4 linked regions of the Homo sapiens genome follow. The protein of the gene in region 3 purifies or fractionates together with the protein of the main gene of each other region. This does not show direct contact. Each region holds a gene or a part of one and is shown on either strand. Other genes may lie near its edges.

Region 1 (7,462 bases), on a different chromosome or scaffold from region 3:
CATCCCTAGTGATCAAGGTCACTCTCCCTGCCCGTGGCTGAGTTGGGCCTGGTTCTAGGCTGTGTCCACTGCAGCCCACAGGCCCGTCAGCCTCTTGCCCCTTCTTAGGCTCACACAGTGCACATCCGACGCTCAGCTTCCCGGCTTCCCGCAGGCCCTGCTTCCAGGCTTGTAGATCTGAGCCGCTGAGATCTAGGACATGTGCCAGGGGGTTCTTTCTGATCATGAATGTGCAGCAGGAAGGCCTCGCAGACCTCAGCACCAGCGCACACTTGCTAGGGGCACCCCTAGTGAAAGGGAGCAGACCAGGGCCCCATAGTCACTGCCCGGGCATTGTCCCAGGCAGCAGGATTAGGGGCATCTCCCAGAGCCCCAGATGGGTTCAGAAAATGAAGCTCTCCAGGCTAGTCAGGCCCCCGATGACCGAATGCCGCCTGCTTTCCAGAGACCAACCTGAAGAAACAGGGCCTGCTGCCTCTGACCTTCGCTGACCCGGCTGACTACAACAAGATTCACCCTGTGGACAAGCTGACCATTCAGGGCCTGAAGGACTTCACCCCTGGCAAGGTTAGGGGCCCGGGTCCCCCTGAGGTGGTGGGGTGAGGGGCAGCCACCTTGTTTCCCCTCCTGCACTGGCCCCAGGGTAGCTTCTCCCAGGAGGCTTCATTCCAGCTGGAAAGGCCCCCAGTTCTCCAGGTGGCCCCACAGAGAAAGCAAAGTGGCTTCTCAGAGTTGGGGGTTGGAGTCAACCCGGGGCCCTCACACCTCCCCAACCTCCCTTTACTCACCAGGACCTGGCACTCAGGGGACAGCCCACCCACTGCAGGACCCTCTGGGCCCCAGGAATCCCCTGTAGGTGCCACCTGGGTCTGACCTGGGCCATCAGGCACAGACTGGCCTAGGATTTGGTTTGCCTGCTGACCTCTTAGGTCCCCAGGCAGTGCCCTGTCTCCCTGACCCCCCTGCGGGGCCAAGGGCACACAGTACCCACCACTTCCACCCACACCCACCTTCTCCTTGCAGCCCCTGAAGTGCATCATCAAGCACCCCAACGGGACCCAGGAGACCATCCTCCTGAACCACACCTTCAACGAGACGCAGATTGAGTGGTTCCGCGCTGGCAGTGCCCTCAACAGAATGAAGGAACTGCAACAGTGAGGGCAGTGCCTCCCCGCCCCGCCGCTGGCGTCAAGTTCAGCTCCACGTGTGCCATCAGTGGATCCGATCCGTCCAGCCATGGCTTCCTATTCCAAGATGGTGTGACCAGACATGCTTCCTGCTCCCCGCTTAGCCCACGGAGTGACTGTGGTTGTGGTGGGGGGGTTCTTAAAATAACTTTTTAGCCCCCGTCTTCCTATTTTGAGTTTGGTTCAGATCTTAAGCAGCTCCATGCAACTGTATTTATTTTTGATGACAAGACTCCCATCTAAAGTTTTTCTCCTGCCTGATCATTTCATTGGTGGCTGAAGGATTCTAGAGAACCTTTTGTTCTTGCAAGGAAAACAAGAATCCAAAACCAGTGACTGTTCTGTGAGTGATTGGTGTCTGTGCCGTTTGTTGTCAAGTCCAGGGTCCAGGAAGGGTCTTTTCAGTCAAGGTCAGTGGAGGCCCAACAGCCACAGCCACAGATGGATCCATCACTGCAGTGAAGGAGGAGCAGGGCCTAGATGGTGGAGGAGCGGGGCAAGCTGGTGGGCACTCCTGGCCTTGCCTCACTGTCCAGCTCGAGACACTATCTCCTTAGCATCGGCCTCAGCTGCTGTTGTCTTCACAGCCGGCCATACCACCTTCCCGCAGGCTGGTAGGGTCCACTGTCCAGCCCCAGGGCTAGTTGCTGGTCCACCAGGAGAGAAGGCCCAGGCCTGGCTCACTGATGGATCCCTGCCAGGGATAAAGAACACGCACATTTCACTGACATGCTGGCTTGAACCAACCTGGACAGGAGGTGAAGGGAGCCCAGCAGGCCCAGCACAGGCAAAGAAGAGGCGGGGCACACGGCAGCCAAGAGGCTCTGGAGAGATGTGGGAGCCACAGCAGTGCTCCCAACGGGCACGCAGCACGCAGGGCGCAGACCCTTCTCCAGGGACTCCAGGCCCTGATAGGGTCAGGGACCCTTCCTCACCCTTAGGCCTGCCCTCCAGGGCCACCTAGGTTCTAATCGTGGCAGGAAGGCTGAGCAAACACAAGGCCCATGCTCCAGACGCATCCAACAGGGAGCAGCCTTGAAAGCCACTCTTCCCCGGAGCCCTCCCTTTTATTTCACTGCTGCAATGCTGCTCCTACAGGGAGCCCTACCTTTTTTTTGTTGTTTTTTTTTTTTGAGACAGTCTCGCACTGTCACCCGGGCTGGAGTGGAGTGGCACGATCTTGGCTCACTGCAACCTCCACCTCCCGGGTTCACACCATTCTCCTGCCTCAGCCTCCCAAGTAGCTGGGACTACAGGCGCCCGCCACCACACCCGGCTAATTTTTTGTATTTTTAGTAGAGATGGGGTTTCACCGTGTTAGCCAGGATGGTCTCAATCTCCTGACCTCGTGATCCGCCCACCTTGGCCTCCCAAAGTGCTGGGATTACAGGCGTGAGCCACTGTGCCCCAGCAGCCCTACCCTTAATCTCAGGGCTTTGATCTCTCCCAAGCCCCTTCCTTGATTTCTTTCTCCCTCAAACCCCTCCCTACCCCCCAATTTTTTAAAGATAGCATTTCATTGTGTTGCCCAAGCTGTAATGCAGTGGCACAACCTTGAACTCCTGGGCTTAAGGGATACTCCCATCTCAGCCTCCCAAGTAGCTGGGACCACAGGGCACGCCACCATGCCCTGCTAATTGTTTTTTATAGAGACAACTTCTCACTTTTTTAGCCAGGCTGGTCTCAAACTCCTGGCCTCACACGATCCTCCCACTTTGGCCTCCCAAAGTGCTGGGATTATAGATGTGAGCCACTGCACTTGGCCTCAAAGCCGCTTTATCAGTGGTCTTGTCCACCGTGAGCTCTGTCCCCTTTGCAAGCTGACTCGCCCACCCCACCAGCAGCCATGTACCTTTACTGCCTCACAGCCCTGGCCTACAGAAACTCAGGCTCTCCAGGGAGAAGTGACCAGCCAAGACCCCCCAAACAGGATCCCTGACCTGCTGGGGGAGATCCCAGAGCAGAAGCCCCAGGACACAGCTTCCAGCCCTGCACTCCGGCTCTCCCGCCTCATGGGGGCTTCAGCACCATCAGAGCCACTCACCACAAGCGTGTACGGAGCCTCCTTCTTTGGCAGCTCCTCACTGGAAGTGGTGGCATCTGCTGAGCTGGGCCCTGTGGGGGACGTGTCAACAAAGCTCTCGTCCACCACCCGGAAGCGGATCTCCTCGCCGGTGTCCATGTAGAGGTCGTGTGCTCCTTCCTCCGTCTCGTACTCCCACACCCACACCTGCTCCGCTTCGTCGCTGAGGGGGTCCAGGGTCAAGGCAGCAACCAGATAGTGGGAGGGGCTTCCCTCAGCACCCACTCCCCGACCCCGCAGGAAAAACCAATCTCAGGGTGAGATCACTGTGGCTGGGAAGTCACAGGAAAAGCAGGTCCCAGCCCCATGCACAAGGCCTGGGCCAAACAGAGAGGAACAAGCGCTCTTGGAGGCCAGGACCCAGGAAGGGGAACATGGGGTCCCCAGCCAGGCACCACGGCCAGACGCACATGGATCTCAGAGCACCAGAGCAGGAGGGGACGAGACAGGGTCCGAGTCCCACCTCTCAAGACAAGAGCAACCTGGGCCTCCTGCCACGGAGCCCCACACACCCTTTTCATCAAAGCCTTGTGACAGGCTGATGGGCACCCAAGGACTTGCCGTTTTCAAGAGGACATAGTGGGATGGGAGGTCACCTGCCCACTTGGATGACAGGTGGTGAGAGAACCAGCCGGGCTGCGCCAGGTTTTCTAACACATCCTGGAGTCACATGCAGACCCAGAGCCGTGCTGCCACCCAGCCAGGGCAGTCCCCCTTGGCTCTCCATCGTCCCTGGCAGAGCCCACACAGGGGAGCCATGGGTTCTCTGGTGGCAGTCCCACTGTTGGGTCCTGCCTCTGTGCCAGGTCCCGTGCTGTGCACCGTGGGTACAGCTGTGACATGTCAGAGTCCTTCCCAGTGAGGAGCCTCAGATTTGTGGATAGCCCCACAGAAACAGACAACCCCAGTACAGCAAGGTGAGGGGTGGGACAGGGACAACGGAGGCCCAGGAGGAACACATCTTAGCCCACGACCCGGCACACAGGCAAGGCCTCACGTCCCAGGGACCAGTGCATGCCTCCAGGGCAAGTGATCTTTAAGATGATTCCTGCAGGGACAACCTAAGTGAAGTGAACCGGAAGTGAATGGTGTCCCCCAGGACACCACAGCTCTAATGGTGTGCAGTGTACAACCCAGACAGCCAAGCCTGATGGCCCCGACAAAGACAGGCATGTGGGCATCACATGACTCCCTGCATGGGAGGCACAGACAGGCTGGTGCCTCTGGAGCAAAAGCACAGGCGAGGGGCAGGCACAGAGGCCAGTGACATCAGGTTACAGGCCCCAAAGGCCACCCTAAGGAGTGGGGACCTTCCTTTGGAGAGGCCTGAGCTCCCTGTGACAAACCACTTTAACCCTTGGAGGATACAACTTGGCTGGCTGCTGCAGTGACTCTGGGGGGATGAGAATGTCATCGAAGAAGCCTAGAGAGACTGGAAGGAAGGAAGCAGGTGACGGCCTGAGATGGGGGTCCCAGTGGACGCCAAACACTGCGGGGTCTTATGCTTGACAGGCAAGCCCTGCCTGGGGCTGCCCACGAGGCGGATGTCGCTGTGGAAACCTAGGCCCCTTCCCCACCTAATGCCTCTGCGTACACCACCCACATAGCGGAGCAGCCCTGGGCAAAGCCCGGAGCACCTAGTCCCCAAAACCTCTGCACACAACAGGGGCCAGTGGGCGCTAAAGACTCCCAGTCACTTCCGCCAGCTTCAGTGCCCACCCTGAAGTCCTGAGTGACGGCCTCACAGTGAAACCGCACTGCTGATGGAGGTCCTCACACAACACATAAAAGGGAGGGTGGGCAAGCTTCTCTGACACCACGGGGAAGGTTCGGCCTCGACACCTGAGCCCTCCCCTGACCATGTGGGTGGACACAGACCTCCTGCCCCCACAGTGTTCCCAAGTCTTGTCTGAGGCGTCAGGGCCACTGTTACCGTGCACTCCTTCTGGGCTGCAGCCTTTGATCTTCCCAATGAGAATCTCATCTAGGAATGGATGAAACACCACGCAGCGAAAATGGACTGGAAATGAAGACAGCCCATCAGTGATGCTGACCGGGGCCCCAGTGCGCTCCCATGTCACCCTCAGGTGCCAGCACACCTGGGGGCCTGTGTGGCTGCTCCATGCCACATCCCCCTGCAAGCCTAGACCCTCCCTTTGTCTCCTGCAAGTTCACAGCATGGCCCCCACAGGGGGGCAGCAGCAGCTGTCCTGTAACTGGGCACTCCCAAAACTGCCAGGTTACTCACACCTGAGCCCAGATTCTGAGCCATCAGTGGCTCCAAAGTCAATTTCAACCTCCCTCCAGGCTCTCCTTCAGCTCCTAAAAAGGGCAGAAGCAACTGGTAAAGAACGCAGGGTTTGGAAACTCCCACCTCCTGCTGAGCAGCAAAGTCGGCCCCAGGCACAGCTCTGACCTGGAGAGGAGGCTAAAAATGCCCTGGTGTTGTGAGGCGCAGGCCAGCAGCCCAGCAAAAATGCCTCTGTGGGTTCTCAGGCCATGCTGCAGGTGGTCCCCACTCACCTGACTGCAAGGAAAACACCAGGTGGGGTCTGTGCCCACATCGCACACTCTGACCCCAGGCCCTGGCATTAGCTGTATGTCACCTTGTCACTCAGGCCCTTGCTCGAAGCCCCAAAGTAGGAGTCCAACGCTGACCTGAGAATCAGCACGCGGCTGCCCCCTGCTGGTTACCAACAGAGTTCCCACCGTGAGGATAAGGCAGTGGCTCAGAGCCAGGGTGACCCACTCACAGCCACATAGCCATGGGGAGACACCTGGTCTTTCTGTACCCACCAGACAGGGCCACCGGGTCGAATCTTGCCTTCCTCAGACAGGTTTAATCCCAAACACAGGCTTCCACGATGCCGTCAACCATTTAGTCGGCCAACATGCCCCCCAGGACGGCAGGGACCCTGGCATCAGCAGGGCATGAGGAGAGGCAGCCGATGGACCTCTCACCCTGGGAAGACACAAACGTGAGCCATCACAGCCACCATGAAGATGACTGGGCCTTGTGCTGACCTCCCAGAGAGCAGATGAGGGCGGCCAAGGGCCACTTACGCACAGATGGAAAAACCCTGTCCCCCACATGGCCCAACATTCAGTTTGGTTTAATAAATCCTCACAGAGGCCGGGCGGGGTGGCTCAAGTCTGTAATCTCGGCACTTTGGGAGGCCGAGGTGGGCAGATCACCTGAGGTCAGGAGTTTGAGACCAGCCTGGCCAACATGATAAAACACCGTCTCTACCAAAATACAAAAATTAGCCGGGTGTGGTACCAGGTGCCTATGATCCCAGCCACTCAGGAGGCTGAGGCAGGAGAATCACTTGAACCAGGAGGTGGAGGTTGCAGTACGCCAAGATCATGCCACTGCGCTCCAGCCTGGGCAACAGAGCAAGACTCCGTCTCAAAAAAAAAAAAAACTTCACAGAGCCTGCACCAGGTTTGTGCCAGGCCCAGTCTGGGCACTGGGCTCACGGGGGTGGGACAGCACATGATCCTGCGCCCAGGGAGCCCCAGGCTGGAACAACCACATCCAAAAGCAAATGCTGGGCACCCGGAGTCCCCCATGGATGGATGAGTAAACAAAACATGCTGGAGACACACAATGGAATATTATGCAGCCTTACAAAGGAAGGAATTCTGACATGCACTACAGTGTGGCTCAACCTCGGGCTGAACCTTCACATGGGGCCAAGTGAAAGCAGCCAGACACAAAAGCCACACAGTGTGCGACTCCATTCATGTACAGTGTCCAGAACCACATCCATAGAGACAGAAAGCAGTTAAGTGGCTGCCAGAGGCTGGGTGAAGGACAGGATTAGCAGTGACTGCTACTGGGCGGGGTTTCTTTGTAGGGTGATAAAAACGCTGTGGAATGGCCCCGCGCACGGTGGCTCAAGTCTGTAATCCCAGCACTTTGGGAGGTCGAGGCGGGCGGATCACCTGAGGTCAGCAGTTCAAGACCATCCTGGCCGACATAGTGAAACCCCGTCTCTACTAAAAAAATACAAAAATTAGCCAGGCGTGGTATTGGGTGCCTATAATCCCAGCTACTTGGGAGGCTGAGGCATGAGAATTGCTTGAAACCAGGAGGCAGAGGTTACAGTGAGCTGAGACTGCGCCATTGCACTCCAGCCTGGGCAACAAGAGTGAAACTCTGTCAAAAAAAAAAAAAAAAAAAAATTGT
Region 2 (7,462 bases), on a different chromosome or scaffold from region 3:
GGAGCCAGAGGTGGGCGGATCACATGAGGTCGGGAGTTTGATACCCGCCTGACCAACATGGAGAAACCCTGTCTCTACTAAAAATACAAAATTAGCCGGGCAAGGTGGTGCATGCCTGTAATCCCAGCTACTCGGGAGGCTGAGGCAGGAGAATCGCTTGAACCCGGGAGCCAGAGGTGAGCCGAGGTTGCGCCATGGCACTCCAGCCTAGGCAACAGGAGCGAGAATCCGTCTCAAAAAAAAAAAAAGAAAAATGATTTCAAAATAAAAAGATTTTTCTTTTTTTTCTTTGATTTGCAATGATGTGATGCTTTCTCATGATTACACAGATTTTGTGGCTTTTGAGGAAGAATATAGATAAAATTTCGGAGGAATTATAATTACATATTTTGGAAGGAATCTCAAACTTGAAAAATAATAGCCTTAAGCGTGTAAGTTCCCAGCACTTTGGGACGCTGCAGTGGGAAGATCCCTTAAGCCCAGGAGTTGGAGACCAGCCTGGACAACAACAACAAAAAATAGCCAGGCGTGGCAGTGGATGCCCATAGTCCCAGCTACTTGGGAAGCTAAGCTGGGAGCATCACCTGAGCCTAGGAGGTTGAGGCTGCAGTGAGCTGTGATCCCCTTTCAAGGAGAAATGAGGGCAATCTTTTACACTATTCCTTCTAACTTTGTAGCTGGCTAAACTCTAAACTTGACCAAACTCCTCTCACTTCTATAAACAGAATAAAAATTAGGTTAGAGTAGGCTGGGCGCGGTGGCTCATGCCTGTAATCCCAGCACTTTGGGAAGTCTAGGCGGACGGATCACGAGGTCAGGAGATCGAGACCATCCTGGCTAACATGGTGAAACCCTGTCTCTACTAAAAATACAAAAAATCAGCTGGCCGTGGTGGAGGGCGCCTGCAGTCCCAGCTACTCGGGAGGCTGAGGCAGAAGAATGGCATGAACCTGGGAGGTGGAGCTTGCAGTGAGCGAAGATCACACCACTGCATTCCAGCCTGGGCGACAGAGCGAGACTCTGTGTCAAAAAACAAACAAACAAACAAAAATCAGGTTAGAATAAAACATTCAGATCATATAAAAAGCAATCTTAATTTCAGCTGCCAGTCATTGGGAGAATAAACCCCCCTCCCTCAATGGTACTTTAGGTAGGCCTGGCAGAAGCCCAGCCTTACTTCATAGGTGATAGTGTTCAAGTTCTGTTGCCCAGAGCTGTGTTTATTCTTTCCACTTTCTTTACGCTGCTCTTTCAGATCAGTTAGTAACTGAAATACCTAGGAGGAGATACAAAAAAGACGTTTATGAATAAATTTGAGAAATATATCTATCCAAGGTCAGTGGTTTTGAAGGATAAACAGGAAAGTATAGTACTTCCTTTCACCCGCCCATCACCCAGCTTCCAACTCTTGGATTTGAGCAAATATGAGTCCCAGAGGCATATTACATTTTTAAAAAATGTTCTTTTATATAAGCCAAATAATTCAAATTCATTAATTTACTTAAAATATTTCAAATATTTCCTATCAATATGTACATCACTAATCTGATCTCAAAAATATACTATTTGAAAGCAGATTTTCTTAAAGCAAATATTTTGTTAAAAAAGAATTCTGGGTCCAGGCATGATGGCTCACGCCTGTAATCCCAGCACTTAGGGAGGGTGAGGTGGGCGGTTCATGAGGTCAGGAGATCAAGACCATCCTGGCTAACACGGTGAAACCCCATCTCTACTAAAAATACAAAAAATTAGCTGGACATGGTGGCGGCACCTGTAGTCCCAGCTACTCGGGAGGCTGAGGCAGGAGAATCACTTGAATCCGGGAGGCAGAGGTTGCAGTGAGCCTGGATGGTGCCACTGTACTCCAGCCTGGGTGACAGAGCGAGACTCCATCTGAAAAAAAAAAAAAAAAAAAAAAAAAAGAATCCTGCTTCTCTAGTATAAAAATCTAATATAATAATTTCTTTCTGGAAAAGAAAAATTTTGAGGCAAGTGATAAGACAGAGTTTACCCCCCAAAAAAGAAAGGAAAAAATGCTATGGATCTTTAGAAGCAAACTTTCCCACAAGGATAAAACATACATGTATTAGTGCTGGGGGCAGGGGGGAATCTTAGTCTCATTCCTGTTTTAGAGATTCTACCACAGAAGTGAAGAAAATGCAGGCTCACACACCATCACCAGATACAATACGACCCCTCTCATCTGCTGGTCCTTTCAGAAATAGTGGCATGAGATCAATGAATGCAATGTTTCCCCAATGGATAAAACACCCAAACACCTAGCAAAGTCCAAACTGGACAAGGAGGCTCCTAAAAGCCAAAGGCTTGGCCAAAAACCATTCAACCATTTCCTTCCTGTTCTAAGCTGCAACCACTTAAGACTGAGCCTTTAGAGAGGAAAGAATATGGCCAACTCTGTTTATTCTACTACCTTCTTTTTTGTGGGGCGGGGGAGGGGAGCACCACAAGGGGGTAGGTTTCTTTCTTTCTTTTTGCTGTCTTACACTCTGGGAGCTTTTTTTTGGGGACACGGTCTCAAAAGCTGTCTCCCAGACTGGAGTACAGTGGTCATCACTGTAACCTCAAACTCCTGGGCTCAAGCGAACCTCCCCTCTGCCTTCCAAGTAGCTAGGACCATAGTAGGTGTTTGCTACCATGTCCAGCTAATTTATTTATTTTTATTTTTTTTGAGACGGAGTCTCGCTGTCGCCCAGGCTGGAGTGCAGTGGCACAATCTTGGCTCACTGCAGGCTCCACCCCCCGGGTTCACGCCATTCTCCTGCCTGAGCCTCCCGAGCAGCTGGGATTACAGGCGCCCGCCACCTTGCCCGGCTAATTTTTTGTATTTTTAGTAGAGACGGGGTTTCACCGTGTTAGCCAGGATGTTCTTGATCTCCTGACCTCGTGATCCGCCCGCCTCGGCCTCCCAAAGTACTGGGATTACAGGCGTGAGACACCGCGCCCGGCCGCTAATTTATTTTTTTAAGAGCTGGGGGTCTTGCTAGGTTTCCCAGGCTGAGCTCTAACTCATAGCCTCAAGCAATCTTCTCTCCTTGGCCTTCCCAAGTGCTGAGATTACAGGCGTGAGACACTGCACTTAACCTACTACCTTCTAGACCTCCTGAGTCTTTCTGAGTTTAGACTCTAGCACATGGAAAATTCACAGTCAAGGTATAAATGGTTCTTTCTACACCTGGAGTGAGCCTATCAGATGGTTTTGCTAGTGCCAAATAGGAGGCAAAAATGCTGGAATATCTCCTCTCTTACCAACCTTTTTCCTTCTTTTCCTTTCTCCAGCAATCCCACCCTAAGCCCAAAAAATTCTACATTTCTTAATTTCTACTATTCAGAAAGGTGAGTCAACTAAACTCACTCTCTTTTTTTATTTTTTAAGTAGGGATGGGGTTTCACCATGTTGGCCAGGATGGTCTCAATCTCCTGACCTCGTGATCCGCTGGCCTTGGCCTTCCAAAGTGCTGGGATTATGGGCATGAGCCACTGTGCTCGGCTTAAACTCACTTTCAAAATAAGGATGTTAATACCCATAAGACTATTTGCAATGTATAAAAGCATTATAAATATATAAATATATCAAAGGTGATAATTAGGAAAAATCATAAAAATTTTAATGGGAAATTCTGCAGACAGAAACAGCCTTAAAATAGATGCTTCTATCCTATGACTACATCCCAAATGATGATTTGGAATCGTTGAGATTTAGAGAAGGTTGCCCCCTCTAAAATAGAGTCTTCCCAGCTTTCCTGAAGTACTATGTATAACGTGTCAAGCTTACACTATTCCAAGGTCCACCAGATGTTGCCATGTCTTATTTTAAAGTGGAAAATCCAAATAAATTCAGTCATTTCTTTTTTCTTTTTCTTTCTTTCTTTCTTTTTTTTTTTTTTGAGACAGAGCCTTGGTCTATTGCCCAGGCTGGAGTGCAGTGGCACATCTTAGTTCACTGCAACCTCCGCCTCCTGGGTTCAAGTGACCCTCCTGCCTCAGCTGGGATCCGAAGTAGCTGGGACTACAGGCATGTGCCACCACACCCAGCTAATTTTTGTATTTTTTAGTAGAGACTGGGTTTCACCATGTTGGCCAGGCTAGTTTTGAACTCCTGACCTCAAGTGATCCAGCCTCAGCCTCCCAAAGTGCTGGGATTACAGGCGTGAACCACTGCACCCAGCCTGAATTCAGTCATTTCTAACCAAAATCAATTTAACAATCTCAGGAGCGAAGGGCAAACTATCAGAGAGGAAAATGTAACAATCCAATTTACCTCGTAGTTACTGAGAAGCGCAGAATTGGCATCCTTCCTGAAAAAGAAAAGTAAGCTATCATCAGTCTGGGCTCACACCCCTTTCTGGGTATCAAATTCTGTAAAAGAATTCCTGTCAAGATACAGTAGTCCACTTTTTGAATTTAGGGACTACAACCTAAAATTGAAACTGAGAAATGTCCTAAGTCCAACATGGTTTAGCTAGCTGTGGGCAATTTCAGAGTAGACTTGGGAACAAAGTGCTGTCCCATCCCACAGCCATGTCCTCTCCCCATTACTATCTGCCTCCCATCAGCTATTGACATCTTGGGCTGCCACGTCCTCCTGCTGAATCAACAGAAATGGCCCACTTAACACCAATGTCACCACTGGGAATTCCAGCCATGGGCAAGTATCCTGCCAAATATCTGCCATGCTCCCAGGGTGTTCACCACCTACGTCAACTCAACAGGTACAGTCAGGGTGGCAAGCAGTGGCCAAAAGCCTGGTTCCCTGTGTAACAGTTAATCCAGGCAATATGCCATCTTTCCTGAGTGAAGAAACACAACGATGTGACATATATTAAATCACAATCGATCCACTCTACAATAGCATATCAGAAAGCATTGTTTTCAGCAGTCTGGAGGCAGTGGAGTATGACAAAGAACATAGTTTTGAAATCAGATTTGGGTTCATGTTCTAGCTCTGCCACTTATGTGCTGTGAGAATTTTAGTTAAGTTAATTACTCCTTAAGTTTTCCTTCTAAAATAAAAATGGGATGAAACTAGTATCTAAAAGTATGGCCTGGATTCTAAATCCAGCTCCTGAATTCTTTGGCCATGTGAATCTAGGCAAGTTACTTAATCTCATTATGCTTACATTTCCTATCTATGAAACGGCAACTATAGTATCAACCTTGTAAGACTGTTCACAGGGTTCACTGGAAACATGTAAAGTACTTGGAACATAGTAAGTGCTCAATAAGCACCAACATTATCACTACTACTATCTGGGCAACTACCACTACCACCAGCAACTCCTACCTCATCAAACTGTTATGATAAAATGAGACAACAAATTTTAAAAGTTTAGAATAGTTCTTGGTACTTGTATTAACATCTCCATAATGGAAGGCTATTATTTGTAAAAGATATTATCCCAGTTAATTCTCACTGAAAACCCTGTGATGTAGGAGCTATTCGTATGATTCCTACTCTGCAGAGATAAAGCACAAGACTCAGAAATTAAGTAACTTGCTCAAGGTCACACAGTAAGAAGTCTAAATAAAGTGGAAGGTAACTATGGAACTGTGGGAAATGAGACTGAACTGGATGAATGGAAACTGGTCATGCAGAATCCTTAAAAATCAGGTAGAGGGGTCTGCACTTGATTTGTAATGTGCAACAGAGACCTCTGTATGTTCTTAAACCAGGAGTGTGGCGAGATGATCCAAATGATGACCCAAGACTTCAAAAGCATGGGCCAGATAGGTGACTTCCGAGTCAATAAATAAAGCAAAACTAACAGTGGTTCACAAAGAGATAGACCTCGGCCTTAGGTCATCAGCACAGTGATGTCAGCACTATAATCAAATCAGCTCTGTGAAGCTTACCAAATGCTACCAGTGATTCAAGCTACGATTTCACAAAAGTGCTGCTTTGCCCAAATGACCACAAACACACTGAAGTCACAAAGAGTATCATATTTGAAAGGAATCTAACACAGGAAGGACAATGCATAATTAGTGCATGTGACAGAGTTCATTTAAAATTGAAAATGACAAATCAAACCACATGTCATCTTTGCCTGCTTAATCAGGAAATCTGCCCACTGGCTTCCTCCTATCTTTGCTTGAAATTGAGTTATAACTCCCTGTGCTCTCCAAAATATGAGGCATTAAAACATCCCTTCCTGGAATACTTGACTCGAGAAAAAATATGAATGTTTTTTCTCTTCAGGGCCAATGGATCCATCGCAGGTGCACTGTTACAACTTTATTTCCAAATAATGGCCCCTTCTCTGTCATTCAGAATATTCCACGTCGTGGGAAATTTGTCCTTGGCCATTCCAAGTTACTACCCCACTAAACAAGTCAATAGTGTAATGCAAGAATCCAAAGAACACCCTCTGCCTCTTCTAGAACGAATATAAAGGAGGAAAACCCTCTTTCACATAAGTTTTAATGAATCTGTGTTTTGGGATCAAGAGAACCAATTGATGTTTACACAGGTACTCTGTGTAACAGACTCTGGCTGACAGAAGCTGATTTATTCATTGATTTTATCAGGAAGATAAATTTTTTTAAAACCCAGCTAAATATTCACAGAATAAATGCCAATCAATGTATGCTAGGCCTTTCCTTATTTAATAAAATGTCAAGAGGTACTTTATCTACCTTTTATGAAGTCCTAAACGAGCTGTATGTATTGGGGAATTTTTTTAAAGGCAGTTTTTATCTTTGAGAAGTTACTGTAACCACCACTAAACGACAGGTTGTTGGCAACAGGATATGGTGAAACCAGACAGACATCAACTTAATCAAGTTATCCAATTTCACAGCACCAATGATGTGACGCATGAGAAAGACACATCCCTCAGAGCAATCCAGCCCCAAGATGTTTAATTCAAATCTATCCATGAGGATATAATCAGAGAATTCCAAATTGAGGAACAGTCTTCAAAACAACTGGGTTAAATTTAGACTCTTCAAATATCAATGTCATCTGTCACAGTGCCAATGTCACAAAAAGAAGCTAAGGAAACTTCCAGAGGAAAGGAAATTAAAGAAACATGACAACTAAATGCAATGTGTAGTTCTTCACTGGATCCTGAATTGGGAGGAAAAAGAACACTATTATGGCAACTGAAGAAATGTGAGTTTACATTGTATCTTAATAATAGTAGATTATCATCGCTAAGTTTCCTGAGTGTGATAAGGCGACTGTAGCTACATAGAATGCCCTTTTTCAAGAAGGGGTGAAATGATCTGCTATCTACAACTCTCTAATGGTTCAGTAAAGTAAGTGTGTGCACCTGTGTATGGAGAGAAAGCTCATGCCTGTGCAAAAGAAATAAGGGAATGCCAGGCATTGTGGCTCACACCTGTCATCCCAGCTACTCCGGGCTGAGACAGGAGGATCACTTCGTCCCGGAGTTTGAATCCAGCCTGGGCTCAAGTGTCTCTAATCAAAAACAAGAAAGGA
Region 3 (8,331 bases):
TCATCTGTAAAATGGGAATAAAAATAACAATAATAGAATCATTTCACTCAACAAATATTTACTGAGTGCTTACTAGGTGTGCCAGGCACTGTTCTAGATTCTATGGATATAGCAGTGTGCAAAACAGACAAAAACATGCTGCACCCACGGGGTTTAAATGGAGCTTTCATTCCAGTGGAGGCATCAGCAAACAAACAATACTTCAAGCCATGAGACTAGGTGAGACCCCTAAAGGAGTGGATGTGGACAGAGAAAATAAGAAATCCAGGCACTGAGGCCTGGGGCACGCTGATGTGTAGAATTTGCTATACATGTAATAAATAAAGCAAGAAATTAACACCCTTAAAATCTTGGAAATCCAAATTTTAAAAAATCATCTCAATAGAAAAAATGGGCAAAGGACATGAACAGGCAACTGGCAAAGAGAATGGCCATGTCTGGACATGGTGGCTCACTCCTGTAATCCAGGGTTTTGGGAGGCCGAGGTGGACAGATCACTTGAGGCCAGGAGTTCATGACCAGCCTGGGCAACATAGAGAAACCCTGTCTCTACTAAAAATACAAAAAATTAGCCAGGCACAGTGGTACACACCTTTAATTCCAGCTACTCAGGAGGCTGAGGCATGAGACTCACTTGAACACAGGAGGTGGAGGTTGCAGTGAGCTGAGATCTCACCACTGCACTCCAGCTTGGGCAACAGAGCAAGACTGTCTCAAAAAAAAAAAAAAGGAGAGAGAATGGCCAATAAAACCACTCTTCACCTATGAAAGTGACAAAGATTTAAATAATAAGCAGGCTGTCATGAGTTTTTTTTCAAATGGACACTCTCATACCTCACTGGAAAGACTATAAACATAATATTTCAAGGGGAGCAATTTGTCCAGTTAAATCAACAGCCTTTGAAATGTTTATATCCCTAATCCAGCAATCCCACTTTAAAAATATATTCCAAAGACATCAACAGATATACAGTCACAGATATAAGTAAAAGGATATTCATCAAAGAGCTATTTATGGTAGCAAAAATTCTGAAATAACTGAAACAATCTAACAATAAATGAATGGTTAAAAAATACCCATTTTATTTATTTATGTTCTTTTTATTTTATTATTTTTTTTTTGAGACAGTTTCACTCTTGTCGTCCAGGCTGGAGTGCAATGGCGCAATCTCAGCTCACCGCAACCTCCACCTCCTGGGTTCAAGTGATTCTCCTGCCTCAGCCCCCCGAGTAACTGGGATTACAGGCATGCGCCACCATGCCTGGCTAATTTTTTTTGTAGTTTTAGTAGAGATGGGGTTTCTCCATGTTGGTCAGGCTGGTCTTGTACTCCTGACTTCGTGATCCACCCGCCTTGGCCTCACAAAGTGCTGGGATTACAGGCATGAGCCATCACGCCCGGCCTCTTTTTTTTTTTTTTTTTTTTGAGACAGGTTCTTGCTCTGTCGCTTAGGCTGAAGTGCAGTGCAGTGGCAATTTTGGCTCACTGCAGCCTCGACTTCTCCAGCTCAAGCAACCCTCCACCTCAGCCTCCTGAGCAGCTGGAACTACAGGCCTGAGACACCATGCTTGGCTATTTTTTTTGTAGTTTTTGTAGAGACAGGGTTTTGTCATGTTGCCTAGACTGGTCTTGAACTCCTGGGCTAAAGTGATCTGCCTACCTCAGCCTCCCAAAGTGCTGGAATTACAGGCATGAGCCACCACGCCCAGCCAGAAATGGCTTGCTTTTAAGAATGCTACCAATTCCACTGTAAAAGGACAGATTTCCTTTTTTTTTTTTTTTTTTTTTTTTTGAGAGGGAGTTTTGCTCTTGTTGCCCAGGCTGGAGTGCAATGGTGCGATCTGAGCTCACTGCAACCTCCGCCTCCTGGGTTCTAATGATTCTCCTGCCTCAGCCTCCCCAGTAGCTGGGATTACAGGCATGCGCCAACACGCCCAGCTAATTTTTGTATTTTTAGTAGAGACAGAGTTTCTCCACGTTGGTCAGGCTGGTCTCCAACTCCCGACCTCAGGCGATCTGCCCGCCTCGGCCTCCCAAAGTGCTGGGATTACAGGCATGAGCCACCGTGCCCAGCCATATTTCCCTCTTTTACAGTGGAAGTGTGGAATGCATTTCCTTTAGCTATATATTTCTTATTTAGAATATTTGTAGGATATTGACTAAAGAACAGGTATCAAAAAATTGAATGATCTACAAGAGAGATAAGAGAGTTCCCTTACTAAAGATGTTTACATAGAAGCTGGGTAAAAATTTACTACATAGGGTTTGTAAGAAGGATGCATGGCTCTAGTAGAGGATTCCCTATGATCAGCATGATTTAGCATTGTGTCTGGCATATAGTAGGTGCTCAATAAATATTTATTGAATGAATAAATACATCATTTCTATGGGCCTTTCCAAACTTGAGAAATTGTGATCCATAAAGCCTCCCCTCACCATTCCAGTTCTCCTTGCTTTCTTCCTTCTCTAGATTGTAGAAACAATTATGAAACACTAATATTATGAACCACTAATTTAATGGCTCTTAATTACATACTGTATTGTCTTTTATTGTTCCCTAGTTATGTTAGGAGTTTAAATTCTGCCTCCCCAAAAAGAGTGCTAGTTACCAGAAATCAATTCTATTTAACTAACGTTTATTGGGCACTATATATTAACTACTAGCACCTGTCCTACAAAACCTTCTATTCTAAAAGGCATAGAAACGTTAAAGAGAGACAGTGCACTAAGTGTCCTAATAAAGGTATATACAAAACGCTATCGTAGACGGGGGAACAATTCATTTTGCAAGAAAGGCGGCCCAGGAAAACTACAGGTAGCATTTCAGCTAGTCTTCATAGATAACAGGAGTTTGTCAGGCTCTTGGGATAATATTAATAGATTAGGGGGAAGTTGATGCTATAGCAAAGACAGATACAAGAGGCTGTCTCGTTTTCTGCTTTAATGTCTCTCCCCATGCGCGATAGAAAACTGCCATTCTCTAGTATACAATCAATACAGAAATGGAAGCCCAGGGGAGAAACGGTAGGGAGCCAGAAGGGGGCTGATCCAACAACCTGACGGAAAGCGTTGTCTATTTCGCAGCCTGGCCGGGGTGAACAAGTTTGGCAAGTGTCGGACCGAACCAGGTCAAGCCTTACCTGCTGCCCCTCCCCAAAGCGGAGCCCAAGCCGCGACCAACTTGAAATGTACTGGGCTTCCTCAAGTCGGTGGCGTTCTAAGCCCGCCTCCCGGAGCTCCCTATTGGTGAGTTTTCTCGGCCAATGCAGGAGAAGCCGAGGAGGGAAGTCCGCCCTCTTGAAGCCTAGGAAGAGAAGGAGGGAGGGAGCGAGTACGCCCGGAACCGAAGCTTGCGAAGCGGGTCGCAGAGAGAGATGGGCGTTGCAGAATCAGCTGGGGTCACTTATTTCCGGTCTCACTCCAGATGAAGGAGCCACTAGCCGGCGAGAGTTCACCGAGGGAACGTGACACTCATATCTCATCGAGGGACCGTGTTGAGGGAGCCCCTACAGAGAGGCCAAAGGAGGAGAGGGCCTACGGAGAAATGAACCTCTGTAAAAGCTGCTCTTTAGGGATCAGTCTTTTTGTGACTCTAGCTTCATAGCTTGGTCTCTCCATTACTCCAGCCTTCCTTTCAATCATACACTGCCTCTCTCCAGCACCACCAATGGATACTTCTTTTCTAAAAATGTTTTTCTGTGGGTTGCTGCCGTGTCTGTGAGAAGGTGGGCAGAGGGTTCAAGAAAGGAAGGATTTGGGATCAGCGTACCAGGGTTGGGGAGACAGGGCAGGAGCCCAGCTTTTTCTGCATTTTCCACTACTTTCCACTTCCTGCGAGCTCCTTGGGAAAGCCAGCAGAGTGGAAGGAGGAGTCCTATTTTCACAGAAAGCAGAAACAAGGGAGAAAGGTTCAGAATGGAGATGAAATCTAGGAGTTAGTCAAGAAGAACATCCCAGATGTCAGAGAAAATGGCCTGTAGACTGGGAGGCTGTAGGTGTAGTGGCAAGCTCCCAGTCTTTGCCATAGGACAGAAACATAGCTGTGAAGCTTTGGAGAGCTTGCTTAACCTTATTAAGTCTGTTTCCTCATCTGTAACAAGAAGATGATAGTTCCTATCTTATAAAGTTGTGAGGATTGAAAATAGTGTATGTAAAGCACATGGCACATAGTTGACACGTGTCCAAGAAATAACTAGTAAAAATGGGTAGCTTCCTGCAAATATTTCTCTCTCTCTCCCATCCCCGGGAACATTATTTTCAGTATCTTGCATCTGGGGGGCCTCCAGCCTCTGAATTAGCTCAGGACCCTGAGTGAACTTTTTAAATCCTTAGGATTTTTCTTTTTCTCCCACTTCCCTTGGTGCCTTCCAGCTGGACACAAACTCATTCCTAAAATATGTGGATGGAAGCTATGGTAACCATGGAGACAGGGCAGGTGGCAAGGAGAGGCAGAGACAGTGTGAGAGACCAATAGACAGATAGGAAGAGAGAAGATATAAGGAATGTTTCAGACAGAGATCGTCAAGCAAGATGGAAAAAATAAGACGTCTAAGCAAGACTGAGATTAAAGAGATGCAATGTGAGAGAGTGTATTACAAGGTTCGCTCTTCTTCCTGCCCCTGTCCTATCTCCCTGCCCACAATAATACGGGGTGGAGGCACCTGGAATGTCCCTTGCCTTATCTAAAAGTGCTCCCATATCCACCTTCCTCATACTTATCTAAGAGGTCTACATAAGGGAGCTGAGGTCCAAGTTTCTCTGCGATGGGTGTTCCGTTTTTGAGAGATGGGGCGGGGGTGTATCTGTGTCTGACTCCAGGCTGGACCGTGATCTCCTTCACAATTAAACTACAGGAAGAAAGCCACATCTCTTGCCTCTCTTTGCACAGTATGGACACCGGCTGTGGATCCAAAAAGCCTTTCTACACCTTTCTTACACAGTGTGCCATGTGCCGTGTATGGCAGGTCAGGTCTGGCGCACAGGAGCGCACAAACACACCAAGTGCGGAGAATGGGGATCTGCTGAATCTCAGCGAAGAATCTGGATGATGGTCCCTGTCTGGGTCGCGGAGGAGTCCCCTAAGGAACACTTAGGTTTGTTGGGGCTGAGGGGAGGTCGGCTGAGAAAAGGAAGTCAGGATTGGAGCCTCTAGGTTTTTGAGGGTTTATGTGTGCATGAGTGGGGGAGCAGTTTGGTGCCTGACGCCCCCACCCGCAGTGACTAGGCTATAAATAGCACAGCAGAGCTCCGCCCCCCCCCCCCCCCCCCCCCCCGCCAAGCTTCTCTCCTCCCGAGCCGGCGCTGTGCCCGGGGCGCTCCGGGAGGAGGGACCAGGATCCGGCGCCGGGGCGCAGATACTGACACCAAGGGAATCCGGGTGCCCCCCCCCCCACGCCATGCGGGCCCCCAGGAAACTGGCTCCGCCACCTCGGCTGCCCCGTGGCCACGGCCCCAATCCTGGCCAGGCGGAGATTCTGCGGACATTCAGGTATCTATCTGGGCACACAGCCTGGGAGGGGAAAGAGCAAGGAGTGATGGGGAACATCGCAGGGGCAATAGAACCCCCCAATTCTCCCTCCACCCGTTTTAGGTCTCAAATGCAGGCTGCTTCCCTCCCCCCACTCAATTTTTGGGGTTGTGGCAAGCTAAAACAGGTTAGGAATGAGAATACATGTGTGACTGTAGGGTGCATGTATGTGGGTGGGTGGCGTTCAGCATCCTAGAAAGGGGGATCCCAAGTGTGGATAAGACAAGGGGGACAGAGGAAAGGTCTGATAAGCCATGGGGTGAGGGTGGGGGTGCGGACATCCCTGCGCGTGCACGAACGCATTTGCACGCGCGCTAGTCCTTCAGTGCGGGTGCACCCTTCCCACCTCCTCAGGCATGCGCTGCGGGGGAAGGGCCGGCTCAAAGGCATGAGTTAGAGGAAGGACTGTATGCCGTGAAGGTCTCCTCCACCCCACGCTGGGTCCCTGCATCTGTGCCTCAGTTTTCCTGCCGAATCTATCAATGAGATGTCTCTCTTGCAGGGATCGGCTTCGTCACTGAGACCTCAGGCCTCTGCCAGCCACTCCCCCTCCCCATACCCCTAGTCATCCTCGGCAGGTCTCAGTCCCGGCTCCATCTGTGCCCTCGCCCCAGCCGCAGCTATGTTGCACACCGAGGGCCACGCTCTTCTTCGGGCGGTGGGTCAGGGTAAGCTACGCTTGGCCCGTTTGCTTCTGGAGGGAGGCGCCTACGTGAATGAGGGTGATGCGCAGGGGGAGACTGCGCTAATGGCAGCCTGTCGGGCCCGCTACGACGACCCCCAGAACAAGGCACGCATGGTACGCTACCTCCTGGAGCAAGGCGCGGACCCCAATATCGCAGACCGATTAGGGCGCACGGCGCTCATGCACGCTTGCGCCGGGGGTGGGGGCGCCGCGGTGGCCTCGCTGCTCCTTGCCCACGGCGCAGACCCCTCAGTCCGAGATCACGCGGGCGCCTCGGCTCTTGTCCACGCCCTGGACCGCGGGGACCGCGAGACCCTTGCCACACTGCTGGACGCCTGCAAGGCCAAGGGTACGGAGGTCATCATCATCACCACCGATACCTCGCCCTCAGGCACCAAGAAGACCCGGCAGTATCTCAATTCTCCACCATCCCCAGGGGTGGAGGACCCTGCTCCCGCCTCTCCTAGCCCGGGGTTCTGCACGTCGCCTTCGGAAATCCAACTGCAGACCGCTGGAGGAGGAGGGCGTGGGATGTTATCCCCTCGCGCCCAGGAAGAAGAGGAGAAGCGGGACGTATTTGAATTCCCTCTTCCTAAGCCCCCCGATGACCCATCCCCTTCCGAGCCGCTCCCCAAACCACCACGCCATCCCCCAAAACCACTCAAAAGGCTCAACTCCGAGCCCTGGGGCCTAGTGGCCCCTCCTCAACCAGTCCCACCCACTGAAGGGAGACCGGGGATCGAGCGCTTGACTGCCGAATTCAATGGCCTGACCCTGACCGGTCGACCCCGTCTTTCCCGACGTCACAGCACCGAAGGCCCTGAGGACCCGCCCCCATGGGCGGAGAAAGTGACTAGCGGGGGTCCTCTCTCTCGCCGAAACACAGCACCAGAAGCTCAGGAGTCTGGTCCCCCTTCAGGGCTGAGGCAGAAACTGAGCCGCATGGAGCCAGTGGAGCTGGACACCCCTGGACACCTTTGCCCTGACTCGCCTGAGTCCAGCCGCCTGTCCCTGGAGCGCCGCCGATACAGCGCCTCCCCGTTGACCCTCCCTCCAGCCGGCTCGGCTCCCTCTCCGCGCCAGTCCCAGGAGAGTCTGCCAGGGGCAGTATCTCCGCTAAGCGGAAGGAGGCGGAGTCCGGGGCTGCTGGAGCGGAGGGGCTCGGGGACGTTGCTCCTGGACCACATCTCGCAAACGCGGCCGGGTTTCCTACCCCCTCTCAACGTCAGTCCCCACCCTCCCATCCCTGACATTCGCCCACAACCCGGAGGTCGGGCGCCTTCGTTGCCTGCCCCTCCTTATGCCGGGGCGCCAGGCTCTCCCAGGACCAAGCGCAAATTGGTGAGACGCCACTCCATGCAGACTGAGCAGATCCGCCTGCTGGGGGGCTTCCAGAGTCTAGGTGGGCCTGGGGAGCCAGGGCGCTGAGAGGAGTGAGAGGAGCCAAGGAGGGTGGGGATTAGGACCTTAATGGGATAGGTGGGAGAACCAGCTCACACACACACCACGAACAAAGGGATCTCTTGCATGTGCTCATGGGTGCACAGTGCACCCACACATGGTTAAACATGTGTCCATAAGCACAGTACTCTTATTAGCAAGAAAGAATAAGTACTCTATTTACTGGGTATATACACACATGTATTCATGCCCTGGTCATTTCACATGCATATGGGATTACTTGTGTACCTACAGGCACAGCATATCAATAAACACACAGGGCTAGGGTCCCAAACTCTCTTGCATTTGTTCAGAAGCAGTAGGGAACCCTTACTTATGGGCAGTCTCCGATGTCTTTGCCCTCCTGCAGAAGCAATCCCTTGCTTTCCATGTATGCCCTGAAACACAGCCTATCATGATTTTGCACACTCTCTCCGTGGACATCCCAGCCCATTCTGCAGGTCTTGCTTCTTTCTCCAGGCCTGGCTCCTTATTCACACCCTGCTTCTAACCCCAACCACTTTTCAGGATATCTTTTTCACTCTTCTTGGGGGTTCCTGCAGCAACCCCCAGCCTCAGTTCTGCTGCTGTCTTTACTGCTCTCAACTTCACTTCTCAACTTCCTGCTTTTTATTCCCACCCTGTTCCTCCAACAACTACAACAGATTGTCTCATTTT
Region 4 (7,462 bases), on a different chromosome or scaffold from region 3:
AAGTACTGTGAGGGCCAAGGGCAGAGGGCTCAAGAGCACAGAGCAGGAGGGTCAGGGAGGCCTGGGAGAAAGTCACCCTTCCACACACGGGAGCCAGCAGCACGCAGACACGGCCGCTTCCCTCTAGGACTGCACAGCCTGGCAGGAAAGCCAGACGCATTCCAGGATCTTAGAGCATGGGTTGTTGAGGGCCAGTCTAGGGACCCTGGGGCTGGGAGCCACCACCCTGGCCAGGCAACAGGAAGTGCTTTCAAAGCTGATACTGGAGCTAAGTGGGGTGGGGTGTGGGGGAATATTCAAAGCGGGAGAAGCACAGGACAACTGTGGAAGTGACGGAGGTTCAGTGCCGGAGACCTCGGGGTGACGGCTCACAGCGCCCAGCCCAGTGTGTGTCTGGGGCTGGGGGTCCATAGGGCTAGGCAGCTCTGGGGGGCACAGAACCCCAGTGGCTGCACTGGAGCCCCCATCCTACTGCGGCCACAGTCCTGTCCTCTCCCAGCCCTGCCCTGAAAGTCACGCCCCATGCAGAGCTGTTTAGGGCCCCCCTGCTCCTTGCACCCCAGCTAATGCACTCTACACACACAAGCCCACAATGCCTAAGAGGCCTTCTGCACATATTCTGCCCTGTCGTAATCATCTTCACCCTCTCCCACCCAGCCATGGCCAGACAGAATGGCCACAGCCACACAAACTCCAGCCCATGCTCAGGCTCCCCACAAACACCAGTCTCTTCACAGGGAAGTTCACACAAACACCACCTCTGCTCTAGGCCAGAGCGAATCAAGTCTGACACCAAGCTGAGGTCCCGGGGCTGGGCAGCCACCCGGTCCCATCACTGCACCCTGTCCTCACCCCACTGCCCTCATCACCTTCCCCACTCCTCAGGCAGCTGCATTCTGGTCTCTCCTGGCCTTGCTCGGCCCCAGAGGACCAGCCTGCATCCCCCAGACCCTTAGAGCAAGCAAGCCCATGGGGGAGGTGGGTTGTGTGGCTCAAGGCAGGAGTCTCCGTGGAGGCTGGGGGGCTGAGTGGGAGCTTGTGGTTACCTCGGCCCATGCATGCCCCTATAAACCACCCCCAGCCCCCACCCCCCCAACCCTGGCCCCTGATTGGGAAGCTAGCAGTTCCTCAGCCCAGCCACCAGGGGGCCAGAGGCTAATGGAGCAGTAGTCGCCCCAAAACTTGAAGATTCTGGGGGGACCTGGGGGCAGCAGGGGTGTGGGCAGGCCTGGGCTCCATGCGCTGGTCACCTCTAATATTGACATGGTTCCCTTTCTGCAGAGGAGTGACCAGAACTTGGAGATGAGCTCCCAGAATCAGCATTTAGCACCCCTGGGGAACTCTCAGACAGACGTTGAATGCAAAAAGCATTACTGAGTTCCTGCAAGCCTTGGCTTGGAATTCCTGCCACTACCTGTGGGGTCTGAGCCTCCCTTTAACAGAGGGTATTTCCTCCTCCTGCCCCAGAGTGGGTGTAGCCAGCTGTGACCTTAAGGAAGTTGTATAATCACTCTGTGCCCAGTCCCTTATATGGAAAATGGGGACAAAACACTACCTTCCTCTTAGGATTGCCGTGAGAGTTAAATGTTTCAAGTGCTTGGGACTGTTCCTGGACCTTAGGAAGTGTCATATCAATGTTTGCTATTGTAGATCCACCATCCCTTATCCATGGTTCCAAAATTCCAAAACTCTCAAAATCAAAAGGCTTTTTGTAAGTTTTGTATTCCAAGTCATTTCAGGAAAACCTGAGCTTGATTGCTCTGAAGCTATTTCTATGCTTTAATTATCCTGCTGAGGGTGAATATAGCTATAGCTGTATATCTATAAGATATGAGTGTCTTATAGATATATGCTTGTATCTGTAAGATTCTGTATCTTTCAATCTATCCTGCTTAGGGTGAATGTAGTATGTGTTATACCACAGACATGTTAACGTGACCGATGAAGGGGGAGGCTCCCGTGGGGGCTGAGGAAGGTATGTGATAGATGAGAAACGCATCATTTCTGGAATCCAAAGCATTCTGGATTCTGTAACACCCTCTGGCCCCAGGGATTTCAGAGAACAAACTGTGGACCTATTATTGCTTATTATTATTTTACTTATTATTCTCATTATTATGTGGGTGATAGGGACTTCATGCTGCCGAATGGCTCCAGAGAGGCTGACGGTGAGCTTGTGACAGGCTGTGGTTGTCCCCACCCTGCAGAACCCCCAGTGCGGATCATATACCCTCGCGATGAGGTGACCTTGATCGCCGTGACCTTGGAGTGTGTGGTGCTGATGTGTGAACTGTCTCGGGAGGATGCCCCTGTGCGCTGGTACAAGGATGGGCTGGAAGTGGAGGAGAGCGAGGCCCTGGTGCTGGAGAGGGATGGGCCACGCTGCCGCCTGGTGCTACCTGCTGCTCAGCCCGAGGACGGGGGCGAGTTTGTATGTGATGCTGGAGATGACTCGGCCTTCTTCACTGTCACTGTCACAGGTGGGCAGTCTCTGCAGCACAGAGAGGAGGTAGAGAGGTAGGGGGCTAAGGGACAGACACCCACCTAGCCCCACCTCCCCCACCCCATCCCCAGCCTTCCCCTTATCCAGCTTCCTCATGTTTGGCCATCAGAATCCTGCTTAGCCACATCAGGTCAGGACCAGAGGCCTGGTGGGAGGGTGCCCAGCAATTAGAACCATTCGTTCATTCATCCATTCGTTCAATACTCATTGAGCAACTACTATGTGCTTGGCACTGTTTTAGATGCTGGGGATACAGCAGTGAACCAATAAGACTAAACCTCTTGTCTTCACAGAGTTTAAACTCTGGTGAGGGTGGACAGACAAAAAATAAAAGAGATGGTTTGTCAGGTGGTAACAAGTGCATCAGAGGCAAGGCAGGGAAAGGGGATAGGAAGTGGGGATGGGTGTGGAGTGGGGTGTGTAGATCTGGGTGTGAGTCTAGATCTGCCTCTTTCTGTCTGTGTGACCTTAGGCAAGTCAGTTTCTTCTAAAGAGGCCTCAGGTCCTCAGCCATGAAGTGCAGCCAGCAGCTGTGCACCTCTTGAGGGTGGTCAGAGTAACTGATTGAAAAAACACAGGGTTCTTAGGACAGTGCCTGGCACACAGCAGCTGCTCCATGGACTGCAGCTGGCACTGTTCTCAAGAGCTGTGCTGCCAGTGGGGAGGGCTGAGGATCTGGCGGGTGAGGCAGGAGAGGCCTGCTGGCCAAGCCTATGTGCCCCTCTCCATGCCCACCCACCAGCCCCACCAGAGAGGATTGTGCACCCGGCAGCCCGCTCCCTGGATCTGCATTTTGGGGCTCCAGGGCGCGTGGAGCTGCGCTGTGAGGTGGCCCCAGCTGGGTCTCAGGTGCGCTGGTACAAGGACGGGCTGGAAGTGGAGGCATCAGATGCCCTGCAGCTGGGTGCCGAGGGGCCCACCCGCACCCTGACCCTGCCCCACGCCCAGCCTGAGGACGCCGGGGAGTATGTGTGTGAGACCCGGCATGAGGCCATCACCTTCAATGTCATCCTGGCTGGTGGGTGCTCCTGGCCAACCCAGGGCAGGGAGGCAAGGGCAAGCATGGGATGACACCTTCCTCTCTTCTCCAGAGCCTCCAGTGCAGTTCCTTGCTCTAGAGACAACTCCAAGCCCGCTCTGTGTGGCCCCTGGGGAGCCAGTGGTGCTGAGCTGTGAACTGTCCCGGGCTGGCGCCCCCGTGGTCTGGAGCCACAATGGGAGGCCCGTGCAGGAGGGCGAGGGCCTAGAGCTCCATGCCGAGGGCCCCCGCCGAGTCCTCTGCATCCAGGCTGCAGGCCCAGCCCATGCAGGGCTCTACACCTGCCAGTCTGGAGCAGCCCCCGGAGCCCCAAGCCTCAGCTTCACCGTCCAGGTGGCTGGTGAGTACAGCCTGGGCATTAAGCCTGAGAGTGGCACCAAGCCTGAGAGTGGCACCCCAAACTCTGCGGGATTCCTGCTTTTCCAGCATGCCTTGCCCATCCCTGGCCCCACTTCTCTCAGTACCTTCCCCGTCATGCCTCCCCGTGCCCTCCTCAAAGCCCTGAGCCTCTCCCTCCCAGTGACCTCCAGCTCTGACTCCACAGAGCCCCCTGTGCGGGTGGTAGCTCCCGAGGCAGCCCAGACGAGGGTTCGGAGCACCCCAGGCGGGGACCTAGAGCTGGTGGTGCACCTCTCCGGGCCAGGGGGCCCTGTACGCTGGTACAAGGACGGGGAGCGACTGGCAAGCCAGGGGCGGGTGCAGCTGGAGCAGGCCGGGGCCAGGCAGGTGCTGCGGGTGCAGGGGGCACGGAGCGGGGACGCTGGGGAGTACCTGTGCGATGCGCCCCAGGACAGCCGCATCTTCCTTGTCAGCGTGGAAGGTAACAGTGTACCCCTCACACCCTGTGGGCTGTGGCACCCCAAGGACCATCTGCCACTTTCTAGGGCCCCCTTACTCCTCCACCCCCGCTTTGCTGCTTCTGGCTCCAACCAGTGCGTGCATGACCATCACTTGGATAGGGGCTCAGGGCTCCTCTTTCCAGAAACCCTCATGTTGAGAGCAGCATAAACCAGTGGTTAAAAGCAGGGGCTCTAGAGTCCACCCAGCCAGGTTCCAGCCTAGATTCTGTGCCCCAGTAGCTGTGTGACATTGGCCAAGTTGTTCAACCTGTCTGAGCCCCGGCTCTGAAAAGAGGGGATAGTGCTTTTCTTATAGGCCTGTTGTGACAAGTAAATGCTGTAAATAGGGTCCCTGGTAATTGATATTATTAGGGTGCCACCAAGGTGGGGTGCTAGGCTAGGATTATGAGGAACTGACTAAAAGGAGTGGCAGGGAGCTGGCATCTTGTCCTTTGGGCCATCGGTGTGGTCGATACATAGTAGGTCCTCACAGAAGGTCTGTTAAATGACTGGGGACGAGGGCCTGCATCCTGAGGAGGGGATGAAAAGGAGAGAGAAGAAAAGACTCAGCCCAGCTCACTGCCTTACCGTGCCCCTTAGAGCCACTGCTGGTGAAGCTGGTCTCGGAGCTGACACCACTCACTGTCCACGAGGGCGATGATGCCACGTTCCGGTGTGAAGTCTCCCCACCAGATGCCGATGTCACCTGGCTGCGCAATGGGGCCGTCGTCACTCCAGGGCCCCAGGTGGAGATGGCCCAGAATGGTTCAAGCCGCATCTTAACCTTGCGAGGCTGCCAACTGGGGGATGCAGGGACCGTGACTTTGCGGGCAGGGAGCACGGCCACAAGTGCCCGGCTCCATGTTCGAGGTTAGGTCCTGATGAGGATGAGATACTCTGTGTCCCGTGCCTGTACTCCCAACCAGGATTCCAGCAGCCTTGCCTCTCCACCTAGGGACAGACCAGTGGGATGGAGCAAGGGGCCAGCCTCCAACCCCACCAGACTCCATGGCCTCCTTCTTCCCCACCAGAGACAGAGCTGCTGTTCCTACGGCGGTTGCAGGATGTGCGGGCAGAGGAAGGCCAGGATGTGTGTCTCGAAGTGGAGACAGGCCGAGTGGGTGCAGCGGGGGCCGTGCGCTGGGTGCGAGGTGGGCAGCCCCTGCCCCACGACTCTCGCCTGTCCATGGCCCAGGATGGGCACATCCACCGCCTCTTCATCCATGGTGTCATACTGGCCGACCAGGGCACCTACGGCTGCGAGAGCCACCACGATCGCACCCTGGCCAGGCTCAGCGTGAGGCGTGAGTGCCCCGTCCTCTCTTAATGCATTACCCACCCTACACCACAGCCTTTTCTGGCTGTCCTGGAGTCCCTCAGGCCCCCACCAAAGTGCCCCTCATCGCTGAGAAAAGTCACCCATGGCCGTCCCAGCAGCAGCTTGCCCAAAGCAAAACTTTTCTTTTTCTAATATTTTTTATTTACCTTAGAAGTCCATGTGGATTTTGCATTCCATTGCATATTTCCAAGTCGGCTTTGCTATAAACACAAATATTCTCCAGAAAGACTTGCCATGGGCATCCTTCAGGCATGTATTCTAGGGATACACATACCCACTTAAGTAGCAGGGATGGCTGTCAAACAGCACCCCACACCTCCCACCCAAAGCTGGAGCCCTCTGTTTCCTATGTGACCTCATGCAAGTTAACCTCTTTGAGCCAAGTCTCCTTAAAAATGGGGCTGAGACCAGGTGCAGTGGCTCACGCCTATAATCCTAACACTTTGGGAGGCCAAGGCAGGAGGATCCCTTGAGGCCAGGAGTTCGAGGCCATCCTGGGCAACATAGCAAGAACCCATCTCCACAAAAAAAAATAAAAATTAGCCGGGCATGGTAGTTACTAGGGAGGCTGAGGCAGAAGGATTGCTTGAACCCAGGAGGTTGAGGCTATAGTGAGCTATGATCATGTCACGGCATTCCAGCCTGGGTGACAGCAAGACCCTGTCTCAAATTTTAAAAATGGGGTTGATCCCCGTCTCAAGTGTCTCTGGGAACATTAACTGAGATAACATGAAAATTCTTACACAGAGCTTGGTGAATGGTTGTCATTTGTGACACATCTCTTCTAACTTATTTCATTCAAGAAATCATCACAATAAACCTGTGTCCCAATGTTATTCACCTTGTACAGCTGGGGCAACTGGGGTCCAGAGAGGTCAGGCCATTTGCCAAAGATCACATAGCACACAAACTATGTGGTAGAGCGAGGTTCCATTCCTAGTGTGTCTGACTCCAAATTCCGTGCTCCTTCAAGTGTCACAGCACCCCTCACCCAGACTCCACGACCCCCTAACCACACTTCTCCCCCTTCCTGTGCCCTCATCTCCTAACCCTGATACAGCCCTCCCCCCGCCAAATCTGTCCACCGTGCTCCTTTCTTCCTGCACCCTGGTTCCGAACTTTTTTGGTCAGGACCTTAGGTTGGGTGTTCAGGGGTGTAGGCAGGGCCAAGGGATGAGGATTGACTGCAACCCCTGCCCAGAGCTGGAGGCCTCATCCTCCCTCTCTCCATCTCCCCCGGCCAGCGAGGCAGCTGAGGGTGCTGCGGCCTCTGGAGGACGTGACCATCAGTGAGGGGGGCAGTGCCACCTTCCAGCTGGAGCTGTCCCAGGAAGGTGTGACCGGGGAGTGGGCCCGGGGTGGAGTACAGCTGTATCCAGGACCCAAGTGTCACATCCACTCGGACGGCCACCGTCACCGACTGGTACTCAATGGCCTGGGCCTGGCCGACTCAGGCTGTGTCTCCTTCACAGCGGATTCCCTGCGCTGCGCAGCCAGACTCATTGTGAGAGGTGTGGCCTCCAGGACCACAGCCTGCCTGCTGACCTGTGTGGCCCTACTTACCCCAGGCATGAATACTGACCCCCAACTCGTGTGACCCCCACTGACCATGCCTGTCTCAGTGTGGCCCTCATTGACATCCCTGCCAGAGTGTGATCCCCCTGACTCATAGGCCCTGTGTGGCCCCAGAGTCCTCTGCCTGGGTGTGGCCCCTGACTGCCCAAGGCTCAGCCAACCACTGA

The links.
Region 1: the proteins of POLR3GL (region 3) and POLR3H purify together in Homo sapiens (co-immunoprecipitation; 5 studies listed by BioGRID and IntAct, with this or other methods). This does not show direct contact.
Region 2: the proteins of POLR3GL (region 3) and CRCP purify together in Homo sapiens (co-immunoprecipitation; 4 studies listed by BioGRID and IntAct, with this or other methods). This does not show direct contact.
Region 4: the proteins of POLR3GL (region 3) and OBSL1 purify together in Homo sapiens (co-immunoprecipitation; 3 studies listed by BioGRID and IntAct, with this or other methods). This does not show direct contact.

The regions. Positions count from the first base shown.
Region 1 is NC_000022.11:41,527,456-41,534,917, forward strand, and holds part of POLR3H (DNA-directed RNA polymerase III subunit RPC8), read right to left. Parts: intron 6,233-7,462; exon of another isoform or gene 5,519-6,232; intron 5,291-5,518; coding exon 5,204-5,290; coding exon of another isoform or gene 5,149-5,203; intron 4,703-5,148; coding exon 4,639-4,702; intron 3,434-4,638; coding exon 3,232-3,433; intron 1,882-3,231; coding exon 1,828-1,881; 3' UTR 1,159-1,827; coding exon of another isoform or gene 1,024-1,158; 3' UTR 568-1,023; coding exon of another isoform or gene 446-567; 3' UTR 1-445. Other genes in the region: ACO2 (aconitate hydratase, mitochondrial precursor), read left to right, coding at 446-567, 1,024-1,158.
Region 2 is NC_000007.14:66,124,558-66,132,019, reverse strand, and holds part of CRCP (DNA-directed RNA polymerase III subunit RPC9), read right to left. Parts: intron 4,317-7,462; coding exon 4,280-4,316; intron 1,894-4,279; exon of another isoform or gene 1,772-1,893; intron 1,277-1,771; coding exon 1,178-1,276; intron 1-1,177. UniProt on the Homo sapiens protein: DNA-dependent RNA polymerase catalyzes the transcription of DNA into RNA using the four ribonucleoside triphosphates as substrates.
Region 3 is NC_000001.11:145,959,579-145,967,909, reverse strand, and holds the start of POLR3GL (DNA-directed RNA polymerase III subunit RPC7-like), read right to left. Parts: upstream 3,221-8,331; 5' UTR 3,142-3,220; intron 1-3,141. Other genes in the region: ANKRD34A (ankyrin repeat domain-containing protein 34A), read left to right, coding at 6,151-7,641. UniProt on the Homo sapiens protein: DNA-dependent RNA polymerase catalyzes the transcription of DNA into RNA using the four ribonucleoside triphosphates as substrates. Specific peripheric component of RNA polymerase III which synthesizes small RNAs, such as 5S rRNA and tRNAs.
Region 4 is NC_000002.12:219,554,243-219,561,704, reverse strand, and holds part of OBSL1 (obscurin-like protein 1 isoform 1 precursor), read left to right. Parts: intron 1-2,207; coding exon 2,208-2,480; intron 2,481-3,245; coding exon 3,246-3,521; intron 3,522-3,594; coding exon 3,595-3,882; intron 3,883-4,086; coding exon 4,087-4,362; intron 4,363-4,981; coding exon 4,982-5,251; intron 5,252-5,412; coding exon 5,413-5,685; coding exon of another isoform or gene 5,686-5,708; exon of another isoform or gene 5,709-6,556; intron 6,557-6,964; coding exon 6,965-7,231; intron 7,232-7,462. UniProt on the Homo sapiens protein: Core component of the 3M complex, a complex required to regulate microtubule dynamics and genome integrity. It is unclear how the 3M complex regulates microtubules, it could act by controlling the level of a microtubule stabilizer.